Regions from separate parts of the Homo sapiens genome. Here region 2 is linked to region 1. The links come from fine-mapping of genetic effects on gene expression. Tissue or cell type: T cells. Region 1 holds a variant in brackets; the other region holds the start of a gene. All regions are shown on one strand. Distances are between the middles of the regions.

Region 1 (8,184 bases):
TTCAGCAGATTCTTAAAAGGTCTGTAACTTAAAAAAAGGGTTAGAACATATGGTCTAGACACGTGTATGGGGAATGTTTCTGTGGTGGTTTCTGGAATTTCTGTTGCCCTAATGCCCCAGATGTCTCTCTGAGGCTTCCCCTAGCACAGGGATGGGCCACCATTCCAGATGTTGTCTTTGAGTGGTAGATTATTCATACACGAACATATCCTATACTGACATGTAAGACCTAGTAGGGTGGACAACTGACCTTGCAGAATGGTTTTGACACTGGCATAAGGTTCCCCTGATAGTGGCTGTAAAAATCTAGCTCTTCTGAGAACTATGGGCATCCTGAAAAGTAGCAATATTTAAGAACAGGGAGTTGGCCTGTCTGCACTGGAAAAGGCATTTATGTCTTGGTAGAACCCATGTTTGGGCAAGTAACCGGGACTTGGGCGGCATGAGCTCCAGGGCTGTGAACCAGAGTCATACCCTGGCAACAGCCATCAACACTGAAGAGGACCTGGGGCCTTGCAGCAGAGCTTGTGGCTGCGGTGGCCATTTTAGATGATGTCATTCAGCTCCCTGGCCATGCCCTGCTTCCCACCCACCTCACATTGGTGGCTGCTCTTTTTTCTTTGACTAGAATCAAACCAAACAAGGCTCTATAAATAACCCTCAGGGATCTTCAAAAAGATCAGACTTACACTTGAAGAATTAAAAATATTTACCTCCACCCCCCAATTAAATCCACTCCTTTAAAGCTTTGCCCTGATTGAGGTCTGAGGCAGGGAGGCCTGGGAGGTGCTGTGGCCATCTTAGACCTTCTGTCTCTGACTTCCCATGACTTGTTTGGTCTCATCGCATGCTGCTGTAGCCTCTGAGTTCCTAATGTCCAGGCAGATTGCTCACTCTTTTGTTGTTTGCCTTTGTGTAGACCTTCTATCAACTAACATTTATTGAGTATTTACTTATACTAGGCACTGTAAGTGAATTAATTCATTTAATAACTTTATGACAAAGTAAATATTGTGCCCATTTTACAGGTGGGAAGACTGAATGTCAGAGAGGTTAAAGGCATGGCTTCTGTTCTTGAGATGTTTAGAATCTGTCTGGGGAAGAAAACAGACTAGATTCATATGCATTTACAAATATATATATATATATATAAGCATACATATATATGCTTTTATATATGATAATGGGAGAGGAGTTGCAAGCAAACAAGGTCATGTGATGTGTACTGCTTGTACATGTGCTGAGGCATAAATAAGGAAAGAGTCACCACATTTTATCCAGACATATCTCACAGATTGGATGTAATCATGATGGCATTGATTAGATTTTAAATCAAAGAAGAATCAAGCTAGTTAAAAAGGTTTTTCCCTACATTTTCATTTTCATATCATATCTTAGTATGGGAAAGCACCTTAGAAGTCATCTAGTGACCTTATCTAGTTTAATCTTGTTACAGATGGGGAAACTGAGACCCAGAAAGGTAAAGTGCACACACCTTCCTCATAGCTAGTAGTTGAAAAACTGGGCTTCTGAAGTTCTATTTCCACCATACTGAATGCCTTTACTATACCACATCAAATAATTGCTTCTAAGGTAGTGCCTTAGATTCCCAATTTTCTGGGGTCAGAGACTGCAGGCTTGAGTTTGTAGAGGCTGACAGAGAAACCACCTCCCATAAACAAACATAGGTGACCAGGCAGTAGGATGGCAGAAGCTCTGCAAAGATGCCAGTTCTGTCCTTATTTAAGCATCCAGTTCTGGCTCCATCTGGGCCCTCTCTGACTATCCCAATCTGTCCTTCACAGGCCAGTGCAGTAGTGACCTGTTCCAGTCCACACACAATGTCATTGTCAAGACTGAACAAACTGGTGAGTAGTAGTGGACAAAGGGAGCCAACCTAGCCTGGCAAAGCTCCGGGGAGGACAGTTGGGAGAGGGCAAGAGAGAATGTGGGGGCAAGTTTTTGCAGGAAACACAGGGAGGCCTTTTCCCTGGCTGTCTCTGATGGGCCACCCCCACCATGAATCTCATTCTTGCCCTTGCGACCAGTGACTGCCACCTATTTCCAATTTATAGACTTATGGGGAGCCACACTTCTCTGCCTCCTACTCCTGGTTGTGGCATCATCCAGACCTCAGGCCAGCAGCCAAGGAAAAGCAGAATATATGGTGGGCCTCCCCACCTTAAAAAGTGTCAGGGGAGTGGCCAAGTTTGGAAAGAGAAGAGGAAGGGGCAATGTCTCCTCTTCTCTCCCTCCTCCCTTGATGGGTGTGTGTTTCACAAAAAGGGTGAATATACTAACTTGGTATTGTAGTTAACAAATTTTTAGGGGCCCTGGGGAGCTTCTGCAGAGATGTACAAAGGTACCTGCAACCCAGCTCCTGCCTTAGGTGTGTTTTTATATGAAGGACAAAATGCTGGGCTCTGAGCAGAGTCTACAGTCCCATAGCATCTACATTCATTTTCGTTTCCTTTCCCCTGTCCTAAATCTCTCTCCTGGAGACTGTCCTCCAAAGTCCATGAGCCATCATAAAACTGTGCAGCAACTATTGCTCCTAAGTCACTCCCCATGTTCATGCCTGGGAGCCTGGGAGCCACGTGGGCCAACCAAGCTTTCCATAGACCTCCCTGAGGATGTGTCCCAGTCACCAAGGACAGAATTTGACCTGCAGGTGATTTGTGAGTCACTTGGGGCCAAAATTGGCCCATGCAGTTATTTACCCTTTCATAAGTGGGCTGGCCTACCATTATTAAAGAAAAAAGCAATAGCTGCTAAGCATGCAAATTAGGCTTTGCTAGCCCTGCCTTTCTCTTCAGAGGCCAGGGGATGGGCCATCTGGATGTTCTGTGCTTTACAGGCCTGGCCTTGCCCTAGAGATGGATGCAGGACTTGGTCAGGAGGATGGCACCCCCTCCCCTGCTTGACCTGTCAGATAGCCCCACCGAAGGAGCCAGGGTAATACTGGAGAGGTCCCAAATAACTTGATAATTCCTTCTTGACCATCCAGACATTCTTGTGTTGCCAGTTCAGAAAAGCTGAGTGGAAGGGTGGAGAAGAAGGTCCACCCTAGGAGGAGGGGAGAAGAAGCTCATAGAGGGGCCAACACCCCCATACCTCTTTGGTTCAGTTTGTTTTCAGAGACAACAACAGGTGTACAAGGTGACCCAACAAGGAGAGAGGGTGTAACCCCAAGAGATTGGGCTTGGGGTGTCCAAACATGTAGCTATTAGCTAAAATACCGGCTAAATCCCTATGTCGTAAACACGAGGACTTAGCCAGTAAGTCAGGTTTTGTATCATTTGTGCTATAAAAACAAAATGAAACTCAGTCAGTGGCTTACACCCCGGCCCTAAAACTCAGAACCCAGCAAGGAGGGGAGCTGAGGGTAACCTAGGTCTGC[G/A]GTGAGGAGAAAGCAGGAAGTTTCTGGTGAGGACGAGGTGAGAGATCTTACAGCTTTTGGCTAGCCAAGAAACAAAATGCTTCTGTTGGAGACCAGCCCAGATCTGGGGGTTGCGTAGGAGTTGAGCTCCATTTGGGGTAGGTGGAGGGGAGTTCCCTTTGAATCTGAAATCTGAAGAGTCAGTCAAAGTGAGAGGTGTTTACCGCAGCACACAGAAGAAAGAGAAAGAGAGACAGAGTACAAGAGCACTTCTTTTCTGCGATGGGGCAGTGGGGCTTCACTCTTAAAAGGTGTTTGTTTGATTTAGTAACACAGTCCACCCCTTCTCCTTGGTTTTGTTTTGAGAATTTTATGTCATCCTTTAAGCTAATTGGAAAAATCCTAGAGGGAGGGGGCTGTCACCCAACTTGGATGACAAATCTCTGGATTTCAGCAAGGAAGAAACTGTGATAAGATTGACAAGACTCTTCCTGAAAGAAATATCATTAACCCCCCAAGGCCTCATTAATTATTTATTATACATTTAAATAAATTAATCCCTAACAAGGCCTTCCCCCCCACCACACTCTAGGGTAAAAATATTCTGGTGATTATGCAGTAGAATGCAGAACAAAGCCAAGCCAGGTTAGGAAAATTCCCAGGAACCACTTGGTCTAGGACAGGTTCCCATTCTTGCAACTTCTCTCACTTCCCTAAAAATGCAATAGGTACAGAACACATGGATGAGGCCATTTCCCCGAGGATGCTGAAAGGAAAATTAGACAACATTATTATAAAGTAACGCAGCTGAAGCAGAATCATATCCCTTGTCTCTGAGGACCACTCCTCACCCCCCATACTTTGTTGATGAACAATGAATTAGAAAACGCAGCCTCTTCTCCCTGGGGAAAAGAGATCGCTGACTATTCTCCTTCTCTATTTTTTGTAGAGCCTTCCATCATGAACACCTGGAAAGACGAGAACTATTTATATGACACCAACTATGGTAGCACAGTAGGTAACTAACTCCCTGACACTTAAGGCCCTTTACATTCTTATTCAGTTTGTCTAAGAGCCACAGTGTTCTATTGTGAGGTGGGGGGAGGGGGTGCTCTAAATGTCCTTTATCTTTTCATGGCCACAGATTTGTTGGACAGCAAAACTTTCTGCCGGGCTCAGATCTCCATGACAACCACCAGTCACCTTCCTGTTGGTAAGCTGTCATCACATCTGAGGCTGGGTATGCCTAATGCTTAGGGAGAATCAGTGGGAATTACCAACACTCTACATTTCTGCCTTTCTGGAGTCTTTCTAATTAAAGGGCTAGGAAAGGGATGGGGTTACCATTAGACGAGGTTTGCTTTTGAGGCAATATTTGTACATCGAAGATGACCCGTAGGGATCCTCTAGGCAAAATGTTGGTCTCCTACGAAACTAGTCACTCTGTTGTGACAATAAAAGTTGTTTAGGCTTTTCTTTATTTTCAATGAAAACTTACTCTTGCAATATAGCTGCTAAAATTATTCATATTTGGGTATACTTATGGGAAATAAGGCTATATTTAATTTTCAACAAACTACATTTGGCTTTAGAGAAAGAATACCTCATAGTAAAATTCAAAGGTCCGTGAACCTGTAGTGATAGTTTCTGGGTGAAGGGGTAGCCATTGGAAACTTCCAGAATCCCCACAGTTACACTATTTTGTCAGTTTTTAAGTCTAATTCCGATGACTCATCAGTGCTCTCTAATCAGTCAGAGCACCTGCATTTTATGAGTTACGTTCACTTTAGCTGCATTTGGTTAAGCTTGGATGCAACTGGGGCTATCCATGCTCCTTAACCAAGGTTACACTGGGTGAGAAGTTTGGGATGTTGGGAGTCTGGGAGAGGGGATTTCAGATTACCACCCCCACCTACAAATAGGTGCATTGGCGTGTACAGTGTGGGAAATGGTTGAAAGAGGATCTTATGGTTTCCCGTGATCTGAGTATGAACTTGTGGATCTCTTTGGGTCTATGAAATGGCACTTAGACATCAGTCACAAGTGATAGTGCCTCTCTCCTGGAATTAAATTTGGAGCAACTTCAGAAATGGGATTTAATTGGGTCTTTGTGAAAGAAATTAGTCTGCAACCCTTCCTTCCTCTTTTTTTCTGTTTTTGTTTTTGCTTTTGAGAACTGAAATAATGAAAGGTTTTGGTTTGAGGTTTTGTTTGGGTCAAGCCCCTTAAATGAGATGGGGCTGGGAGCCAATGTAAATGCTTCTGGAATTGAGATTAAGAGCTGAGGCCAGCATAGCTCTCGACTTCTCCTTCCCCCAGTGGTCCTTAGCATTATGTGTCACTTGAGGTATTTGTTAAAATTAGGGAATAGATCAAACACTGGCAAGGCTTGGCTGTGTATTTGCTATTCTGGGGGAACTGAGCCAACCGGGGTAAAATTTCTGTGGCAATCATTGCCACTCAGTCAAGACCATGGGGTTCAGGGCTGAGGAAACCTCCCAAGTCACACTCTGAGTTCCTCTGCGACTTCCTACAGTGTCATCTCCCACATCCTTCCATCCTTCCATCCTTCCATCCTTCCATCCTTCCATCCTTCCATCCTTCCACTTGGGTCTTTGACTTACGGCAAAAAATTCCAACTAAGAATAAAGCTGAACCAACCACTTCCTGAGCCTCAGGGGCTAGTAGGTCTTGAGGCACCCGGGAAACAAAAACATCATAGTTACAGCTCTGCTGCCCTGACAGCTGGGCCATCCTCTTTTCTACATCTTGACTTACACCTTCTAGAATCTCAAAATCAATAGGGGCCTTAGAGGCCAGTTTCTGCTTTTGCATTTGCAGTAGCAAGGAACTCGCTCTCTCCTGAGTCCACCGATTGTATTTTTCAATAGTCCTTCTTAAGATGGGCTCAGGAATCTTCTCTCCTTACCCTTCTGATCCTTGTTTGCTGCAGCTCCCCATTTCTATCCTGTGATTGTAACCCAGGCTGGAAAATGAGATCAATCACCCAGGCCCTAAAGAATCAATGCAGTCTCTGGGGTTGGTGTATTCATTGGGGTAATAGCCCTTCAGTAGGATAGTTAATTACAGCCTTATATGGGTCAGTTTCTTTCAGAATAGTTTATAGTCTCTACTGCATGGAAGCAGAACCCCGGAAAAACCTTGGTCATTTGCCTGAGTCTTTATTTTTCGAGCTCCCATGTAATTGAATGCAGTGAAATATCTTTCTATGTTTTAATGCTAGTTACCAGCTGAGCTAAGGCGAGGCCCAGCGTAAACTGATGCCCTCTGTGATAAACGCAGGTGGGGAAATAGGCTTTGTTTTGATTTCTCTGTCATCTGCCCATTTCATAAAATGCCCGCTGCCGGTGTCCTGTTCTGCTCGACAGTCCTCCAGCCTGTCATGCCAGCTCGGGCTTGATGTGTTTATCCACTGACTTGTTGAGCCTAAAGCTAGGGTGGCACGGTCTATTAGAACACTGAAATTTGTATATCCCGTAAAGAAATGGCTCACAGCTGAATCATATGCAAATGCTTCTAATCTTTGCTTCTTGCGAAGCAGCTTAGCTGAAGTCACGCTCTCTCACTTGCATCACAAACCTGTGGCTTGTTGCTGCCCCTGCCTGGACTGGATAGGACCTTGGCCTGGAGTGCCTGGGAGCCAAGCAAGAGAAAGCCAGGCTGGACAACTTCTCCAGGGCAAGCCATTATTTTATAAGAATGAATCACTTAACCACATGGCTAACTTCAAAGGTCTTGACTTTTATCCTAGGGCAGAAGAAGGACACATATTAAAGAGAGGTTAAAGATCAAAAGATATCAGTGGTAAAGCAGGCCAGTGATTCCACGGCTTACCCCTGCACACTGCAACAGGCAGAGAGGTCTGGAAGAAATTAGGTTCTTCTTTTGCCTTTGACTGCTTATTCCCCTTTATGATGATGGAAAGATTTTTATTTGGGGATTAAAAAAAGAACGTTCCTAGCTGGGTGGAGCCTAGCTTGGGTAAACGGCTGACAACTCAAAGAATATTTCCTCATGGTTTATCTAGTGTAGAGGTTTTAGAGTCCATGGACTGCTGCATGGGCCACAGCCCCCTGAAATTGTTGACAAAATTTCATGTGTACATATATGTGCATTTTTTTCTGAGGAGAGGGTCCAAGGTTTTCGTCTTATTCACAAAGGCACCTGAACTCTGAAGTAACTGATTCTAGATCAACTAGGAACCCACAAACAATAATTGAGGCCAATATACTGAGAGACTCTTGTATTTTTCTGAATTCAACTCCTGGCTCTGAAATAATGGCCCTGCATCCCTCCTGGATGTCATTTGAAAATGAGCTTTGCTTGTGGCCTGCTGGGTAAATGCCACTCTTTGTCTGCAGTACAACGTGGCCCTGTCAGAGTGATGTATCACTTGGAAACCGGGGTGGATGCCAGACCTGTCGCAATATTGTCACATCCTGATGGGATGTTGCAACCTCACCCTGCAACCTACAGGGAGGGAGAGTGAAGTCTCCTTGCATTTCCTGTGAATTTGTCCTCTCGGATTTCAGAGAAACCCAAGTCAGGTGCAGGCCCTGCTAGTGACAATGCCAGGAGAGAAATTCTTAACCAGGATGAGAGGTTTCTTGTTTACTGAGGTCTTATTAAATCCCTCTCTCCATCCTGCCATGACGTTTCGAGAAATTGCTGGGAACACTGAGTCTTGATTAGCTGGGTGATAAGATGGTTGAAAGGGCCCATGAACGTTGGGAAATATAGAATTGTCAGATTGAAATTATCTTTTCTACTAACAAGAGCATTAC
Region 2 (8,184 bases), 30 kb before region 1:
GTGGGCATGCACGTGTGTGTGTACACAGTGGGTCATTCTTCTCAGGAAGAGTGAGCCACTCTCCCCTCCTCCAGCACCAAAGTGGCCCCCACCTTGGCACGCCAGTGGCACATGCCATTGGGCCAGGATTTGCTCAGAATGCAGGCACACAGACATAATGTCAGGAGGCATTGCTGGTGTGTGTCACATCAACCTGTTAGAACAACTGTCAACGTGTGACCTCCCAAACAGAACTCAGGTGCCCCCTTCAGAGACCGTAAAGCTTGTCCTTAGAGGATAATGAAGATCCCCAGGAACCTCATCTAATCCAAAACCAAAAGATTTGGGAAATGTGACCTTTAGAGGGGAGTAGCATTAAGAAGCAAAATGATACTTATTAATTCTGTTGCTTATTTGACTGTAACCAGTATAATAAATGATCATATTCTGCTCGATTTAATTCCCCCTCCCCATAAGTTTCACAAGACCAGAAGGAGTTTCTTCTTCCCATTGGTCTTACATTAATATTCTTGTACGGCTTTCACTAAATAGATGCCGTGTTCTGCCCTGGAGGTAACACCACGTCATTAGGAGGAGATGATAGACAGAAATATATACAAACACACACTTGCTTTCAAAAATAAATATAGGCCCTCTAGTTAAAAGGTATTGTGTAAAGTGTGTGAGCATCCTCTTTCTTGCAAAGCAAGCACACAGCTTCCATTAATCTTGTAGCCACAGCCTGTGTTGGTGTTAAGACTCAGATTCCTTAATGCTTGATACTTGGCTTAAAGAGATTCTTTGTCCTGGCCTTGATTTGGGAATTAAGATCCCTAGGGTTTTTGGTTTTACAGTATGGATCTTCTAGGAGACAACCCGACTGACCTCCGGGTCTCCAGGCCACCACACACAACCTGGTTTGCTTTGCTCTGTTCCCCTTTTCCTCTGTGGGGACCAGCACAGGACTCAACTCAAGGGCTCTGTGTCTGTGCACAGGTTGGAGAGGGTGATAGGGCCTTGACCTGTAGGGACAACCAGGAAGATTTCTATGCAGAGTAATTGGGTTTCTAGAGTTTGTTTCAGTTGATTTGAGGGCAAGCTGCTTGGCCTCTCTCTCTTGATTCTTCCCATCCACAGAATAAAGACAATCAGCTTTGTTTATCACTCTGTTCATTTTGCTATGTCTTTATCAGCCCCCCAGAGAATTCAGGAGCACAGAACAAGTGCTGGAGGTCTCTCTTGCCAGAGTCCTCCTTGAGAACTTACAATGTGTCCATATTAAGGATCTGCTGTGTTTGATGATTTTGTGATTACACTTTAAACTTCTTATCCATAAAGGACATACTTGATATATCTGAGACTTGTAGTAGAAGGCCTTGAGACATCCATCTCATCCCATCATTATCTATCTATCATCTATCTATCTATCTATCTATCTATCTATCTATCTATCTATCTATCTATCATCTATCTATCTATCGCCAGTACTGTCTTGTTGAAGTTGGCAGTAGGGTGAAAGACCTCAAACTCCAAAGGACTTTCCGTATGGATGCAATATACCTGCAATTCTAGCTTTTTTGTGTTTTTTTTTTTAGGTTGGGGGTGAGGGGTATTGTTTTCATTTTTGTTTTTCTTCTGGAAGGTTCAACTAAGACCCAAGTAAAAAGAAGAATCAATACTTAATAAGTACCCAGCAAGTAGCAGGCACACTTTTAGGTACTTTATTTACAAAAAAACCTCCACAAATAAAGTGGCTTGTGAGTATGAGGTGACATCTTTCCCTCCCCTCCCACCATCACTACCCCAATATGACTCGTCTCAATAGCCCTCCAATCTAAAATGGACTAAATACAAGTGGATAAAGAAATGGAGATTTAACCAGAATTCTTCAGCTATAAATTACAGGGCCTATAATTAAAGGTGATTGGGACTGGGTCAGAGAGCCACATCACTTTTGTGGTTGCATTTGAAGTTCACTATCTCTTGACCACACAACCCTAGCCCTTCTACTCCCACCCTGCTGTCTCAGGTTAATCTCAGGCAATGGTGTAAAGAAGGCCAAGTTTGTTTCCCTGGAGTCCCACGGGCTCTAGCAATAATGCTTCCCTTTTCTCATGAGTGCCCCGCCACCCACCCCCCTTCACCATCACTACACACAAATGCCCTGCAGTGGGTGGAATGTAGTTACTTCAGGTTGTGCCTGATTTGTCTCTCAAGCAAAACTCCAGCAGGCCATTCCCTCAGGGCCCTGCTCTCAGATCTGGAACTGATAGACTAATTGGGGCTAATGTGATAATGGGAAATAATGAAATTTGTTGTTTTTATCAGTGTGTATATGGGGCGGGGTTTACATTTGCATTTTCACAGGGCCCTTGGCAAGTTCACAGGGTTGAACAGTTGGGAAGGGTGGGAATGTCTGGGGCAGGTTAGGGAGGCAGAGGGATTTATTAGAACTCCCCTAAACTGCACTGACCAAAGCCTCAAGCCCTTCTTCAAGACCTGCCCAGCTTCCAAGACCTTCCCAAGTCCACCCTTGTTTTCCCACTGAGTCTTTTACACTTTCAGAAACCTCTGAATTTGTGTAGAAACTAGAAAAAATAAGTAAGAAAAGACTAATACTACTGCACACTCACTGTTCCCCCTTAATATAATAACCAGTTTTTATTCTATTCAGTCAGCCTTTGACCATAAGCAGACCTTTTTTTTTCTTTTTAACACAAGTAACTTCTTGGTTTTGATCACAAAATCTTTATCTCTGCCAAATCTCAACTTCCCTTCCCTCTCCCACAAAAGGGAGGCCCGTTGAGTCAAAGAAATCTGCTTAGACACTTTGCTCATGCCAGGCCAGTGTCCTGGAAGGTTCAACAGAGAAAGTTAATGGTTGGGGGATGGTATTTTTCTTTGCTAGGAGCAGTCATTCACCCGTATGGGAGAAGGTACATTTGTGACCCAGTGAAGCAGGTACAGGTAACTCCCCATATGTCCCTTGGCCCAAGGGAATAGAGGTTGCCTGGGTATTTGAATCCGTAGATCCTCCCTAATATTCCACCTTCTTCTTGTCCAAACTGTGCTTTTTTATTTCCAGTTTCAGCATTTTGGTCTTCTCATCTCTAACTCTTATAGGGAGTGTCAATAAACCTTTTAAAAAAGATCATGTAAGTGTCAAGAGGAAGTGAAGAACCTAGATAATCCACCAACCGGATAATCAGCTCTTGCATATTTGAGAGTTGACTGCTTGACCTAAGCATCTCCTCATAAGGTACCCTCCCTCCCAGGACCTTCCCTTTCAAACCTCTCAAGGCTCTTACCTGGGGCCAGGGGAGATAGGCTTTTCAAAGTCCATTGAATTGCCAAGAGTCTCTGTCAAGAAGGCAGTCATGGTGCCTGGAGAGGGAACTTGCTGGGAGCCCCTTCAGAGCCTGGTACTTATAGAGCTAGGGAAAAGATCTTGATGCCAAAGCAGGGTGGACTAAATACAGACTAATAAATGAGACAGGTGCTCAAGAGGGCCCCTCCATACCATCATCTCCTCCAGATTTGGACTTCTACTCACTTTGCTTTTACATTCCCTCTTCCCGATGGTGTCTTTGGTGAGCAGGGTGCTTTTCACCTGAAACAGCCTCTGAGCTGAAAAGAACAGTCACCACCAAATCAATTCCTCATCCATTAACAGGTTGTCTCTCTGTTCTTGAGACACAGGCATTACCTGGTTAGACCTGTTTTGTTTGAACACTAACGTGTGAGTTGGCCAAATGCAAATGAGCCAGTGTTTGTAATCCTTTATTTTATTTTTTTAAAGGGCTGGGTAGCCAATCAGAAGAGGGGGAAGTGACTTAGGGAATTCCCGGTTGGTGGCTTATTGCTTAACATCCTACAAAATGATTTAAAATTATTGTTATATGCATTTATCTTCACTCTGATGAGGGCTCAGACTTGATAACACCCGTGGTGCCCCATCCCTATAGGAGCTGGTGAGATTGCAGCCTGCTGCCTCCCCTCCAACAGCCACAGCTATTGGATTTCCCACCCAGAATCTTTAGGTAAATGAGGTAAGTCCTGATTTTTAAAACTTCTTTTGAATCTGGAATCCAAACACTTGAGTGGAAAGAGAAGCCTGCTTTAAACTGGACAGATGAAACTAGAACAGACTCTTGGAGACGGCTGGCAGGAAGTGAAGCTCACCTTACCTGGGCTTACCTCACTGGGTCAAATCAGAATTTTATTTTGGAGGGCAGGTTGGCTACTTTGGATATTATCTGTGAATTTCCTGCATTGTCTGGACTTCTAATCTCTGTGAATTTAAAAGCCCCCTCGTTTCCCTATGCCTGGGTGGCAAAACCATTCCCCTGGGTTGAATTCTTCTGGAACAAATAGGCAGCTAGAGATAGGTGGCTCTGATATAGCTCAGAGAAGAAGTGGTTGGCTAAGTAGCTGTTAGGGCTCAGAGTACACGGTCTCGCTTTCTAGAGATGTCTTCTGCTGGTAATTTTTCTGACTTATGAGCTACATGGAAAGGCCAATTTGTTTTTAATATGTTCCAGGACTGGAAAATGGCTAGAAATAGGCAAGAACATACACAATCACACTGGAAAAAGTGGCCAGGCAGCCAAGGCAGGCAGAGGTATTGGGGAGAGCTGAATATCTACAAAAACAAAAATTCAGAAAAAACAAAAATCAATTTTGGCAAAGGGCTTCACTGTATAACAAGGGGACAAGCTAACCCTTTGTTTACAAACTAACCCTTTGTTTACTCCATTTTGTCCAGAAAATACAACAATCAGTTTTGGCAAAGGGCTTCACTGTGTAACAAGGGGACAAACTAACCCTTTGTTTACTCCATTTTGGGAGACTATGATCAGACAGGCAGTTGTGACTCAGCAGCAACAAATGCCTTCTGAGACAGGGATTCTTTTGATTTTGCTTGGACATTGTGGAGAAGTGTTAGCCCCAATGTGGACTGATCTGGGAACAGTGGGAAATTAACTTCTTGTTGGTAAATATCAGGCTGAGGTGAGAAAGCGACATTTTCACCGTCCATCTTTGCTGATTTACCATGCTCCCAGGATGGTGGGAGTGTGTGTTTTTAAGATGGAGAGTGTATGCTTCTGGGTTCAAGTTCACAGGTGTCTCTGCTGGTTATCTGCACTCACCTTGGTAACAGGGAGAAAGTGAGTGAATGGATTCCAAGAACTTACTGATGGAAGTCTAATTCAGGAGTTGGTTCTGCAGCCATGGAGGTAAAGATGTGTTGATAGTCTTTCAATGTGTAAAAGGGCAATTAGAGATTCTGTGTGACTGTGTGTTAATTCCACTGGGGTCAGGGGAAAAATTTATTTCTAACAGAAAAGAAGAAGATACGTTATTAGGAAGAATTTCATGGCTAGGAGATACTATCAGAAAAGGCTCTTAAGAGATTTTAAGGATGACTTTAATAGCTGCATTTGAAGTTTGCAGAGGATCCACTTTTCCTCTTTTTGTGACCTAAAATTCTGGGATGATGAAATAACTCACCAATTCCATCTTCTTATAATATGGAGTCATGTAGACAACACCATTTTCACACAAATGGCTAATGGTATTTAAAAACCATGATGGAATGTGAATTGGGAGTCATTTGGAGGTCTGTAGTTGAACTTGAAAAAATAATAAATGTAATGGAGACAATACTTCACCGTGTTTCCAAAATATTTTACAGAGGCATTTTAAATGAAAGTCACTTTGAGGGAACAGCTGTGCTGTAAGTTCTCTTACATGACCGCGCAAGATGGTAGCCTTCATCAAGACCTCTCAAGGTAGTGTGGGTAGGGTGACGTGTTTGATTCAGGCCTCGTTTGTTATGAAAAGGCTCAAATTCAATTGTATTTGTTATTTTTTTGGTTAAAAAGCACCTATTTGTTCAATTCAAACAATCCTTTTTGGTTTTTTTTTGAGATGAAGTCTCCGTCGCCCAGCCTGGAGTGCAGTGGCATGATCTTGGCTGACTGCAACCTCCGCCTCCCAGGTTCAAGTGATTCTCCCAACTCAGCCCCCCGAGTAGCTGGGATTACATGTGCTCGCCACTATGCCCAGTTAAGTTTTGTATTTTTAGTAGAGACGGGGTTTTACCATGTCAGCCAGGCTGGTTTTGAACTCCTGACCTCAGGTGATCCACCTGCCTCAGCCTCCCAAAGTGCTGGGATTATAGGCTTCAGCCACCGTGCCCAGCCATATTGTTTTCATTTTTAATCTATTAGTCTATCGTGATCTCCCAGTGGAAGTATCTTTGGCCTTTGTGGACGTCAGGAAAGCCCTACATTCCCACTCGCGATTCCATGTTTATGGGTACCCTAAATGCTCCCATTAATTGACCAACTTTACCCTGATCTTCTTTCAATATCTTTCTGACTCCTTGAAGGTATGAGACAAAATGGAAACTGAGAGGTTAAAAGGTTTACTAGGTTGCATTCAATTAGCGAATTGGAAACTGGAAGGAGCTCCTATCGGGTCTCAGGTCAGAACGTGAGTGCTTTTGGCCAAAGTTCACTTCTGAGGAAGTAGAATTTCGCTTTCTGGAATCTTGCGATATTTTATTTCCTCTATATCTTTCCCATGCCCCCGACCCACCCAATCTCCACAAATTTGGGGATTTGAGCACTGGGTTGTGATCGTTAGACCATCTTGCTTTTCTGAAAGCCCAGGGCAAGACCCCTGCTTCATGTCACAGTATCAAACACAGACATAGAAGCTTGTACAAATTATTGAGAAGTTATTGTCTTTTCTCCCTTCCTCCATATGGAGTCATCTCTATGCCCTTTCATACAGATGTGATTTACGAAGACCTCTGGGTTAGGGGTGGGGTGGTGAGCAAGAATCCCGTGGCAGAATCTGCTAACACACTTGAGAAGCAATGTTGTGGTTTTAAGGAACTCAATCTAAAGCTTGAACCTGATTTTCAGGGATACCATTTTGCTGCCGTTTCAGCCCATTTCTCTTGTTAAGATCGCTCTCTGGTAGAGTTGACGTGACACTCATTTCTGTTGTGGGTGGGGCCCTGGTTGGGAGGCATTGGCTCCACTGCAGCCTGGGTGTCTAGAGACCACATTCTCACCCTGCCTTTGTTACTGGGAAACCGAACGCGGCGCTGTGGCTTTCAGCTTGGGTAAGCCGGGTCTGCGGCGGGGATTGCCATCTGAAGACAGAGGCAGGAGGGCAGCCACACCTTGCCCAGGTTCTCTTAAATCTCTTGCTCTATAACTGAAAGGAGGGCATAGATAATTAACTTTATTTGACATTTTTCATATCTAATTTTTAAGAATATGATTTTAAAATAATAGATTTGTTCTAAAGAGCAAACAATCTTGCTGTTATTAAAAACGTGTTTACTTAAATTGAACGGGGTTTCAAAGGGCCAAGCTACTAAGCTGTGCAGGAAACAAACAGTGCAGTGAGGAGAATGGCTCCTCACCACAGCTATTCTTAGGGTGGGACATAGTTTCAAGCCAAATGACATTGATGTCCGGAAACCAGGATGTGCTGAAGTAGAAATTTCCAGGGATCCCTCAGAGTTATTTGCTAAAATGTTTATTATTCTTCAGAGGGGGGTGGAAATATTTCTTTAAGAGTCTTCCTTGAAGAATTTTGAACTCCAGCTTTGGAGTGATGGGAGCACAGTGCAGGGAAGGCGGGATGTGAGGTGGTGTGCTGGACGGCAGTCTAGGGACCTGGTCTAGCACTGGCAGAGCTGTGTGTCCCAGAGCACACATTCCCCTTTGCCAGGCTTTAGTTTCCTCCTCTAGGCAAAAGGGTTTGAACCTGACCATCTTTAAGATCCATTTTAACCCTCAGATTCTGTGGCTGTGGTGATTGGGGGTGGTGGGAGTACCTGGGGGTCAGCAGGATAAGCACGAATCTGTGAGAGCTGAGAACAGGTGGGAGAAGCCTTCTAAGGATGAGGCAGGAAAGATTAGCAAGAGCCCTTAAATGGATTCTTTAGGGCCTTCAGAATTTTGGCTAAAGGCTATACTAGTGGAGGTACTAAGACCTGACACCTGGAGCCTTTATTAAGGATGTTAGAATCCACTCCCATGACAACATCCCAGCTTTGCCAATTTGCCTCATGTGTCTCAAGCTGGTGGGAATGTAGAAGTGGATGAAACAGACTGTTTTGTGATGGCAGGGAACAGCCTATGCACAGGGGCAGGTGCTCTACTGGTGTCTTCTATAAAA

The links. PIP is the estimated chance that this variant, and not a neighbour inherited with it, causes the effect.
Region 2: EHF starts here. The variant in region 1 is fine-mapped to the expression of EHF in T cells (TOPMed, PIP above 0.99).

What each region holds. Positions count from the first base shown.
Region 1 is chr11:34,647,214-34,655,397 of GRCh38, forward strand. EHF (ETS homologous factor) reads left to right here. Exons shown (of 9, transcript NM_012153.6): 4 at 1,806-1,868; 5 at 4,329-4,397; 6 at 4,524-4,592. Among named protein-coding and RNA genes, the nearest start is that of EHF, 30 kb to the left of the region's middle. RefSeq lists an enhancer at 3,431-3,680. The variant G/A (reference allele first, on the strand shown) is at 3,401.
Region 2 is chr11:34,617,201-34,625,384 of GRCh38, forward strand. It overlaps EHF (ETS homologous factor), which reads left to right and starts at 3,893. Exons shown (of 9, transcript NM_012153.6): 1 at 3,893-4,028. RefSeq lists a cis regulatory region at 1,794-2,193.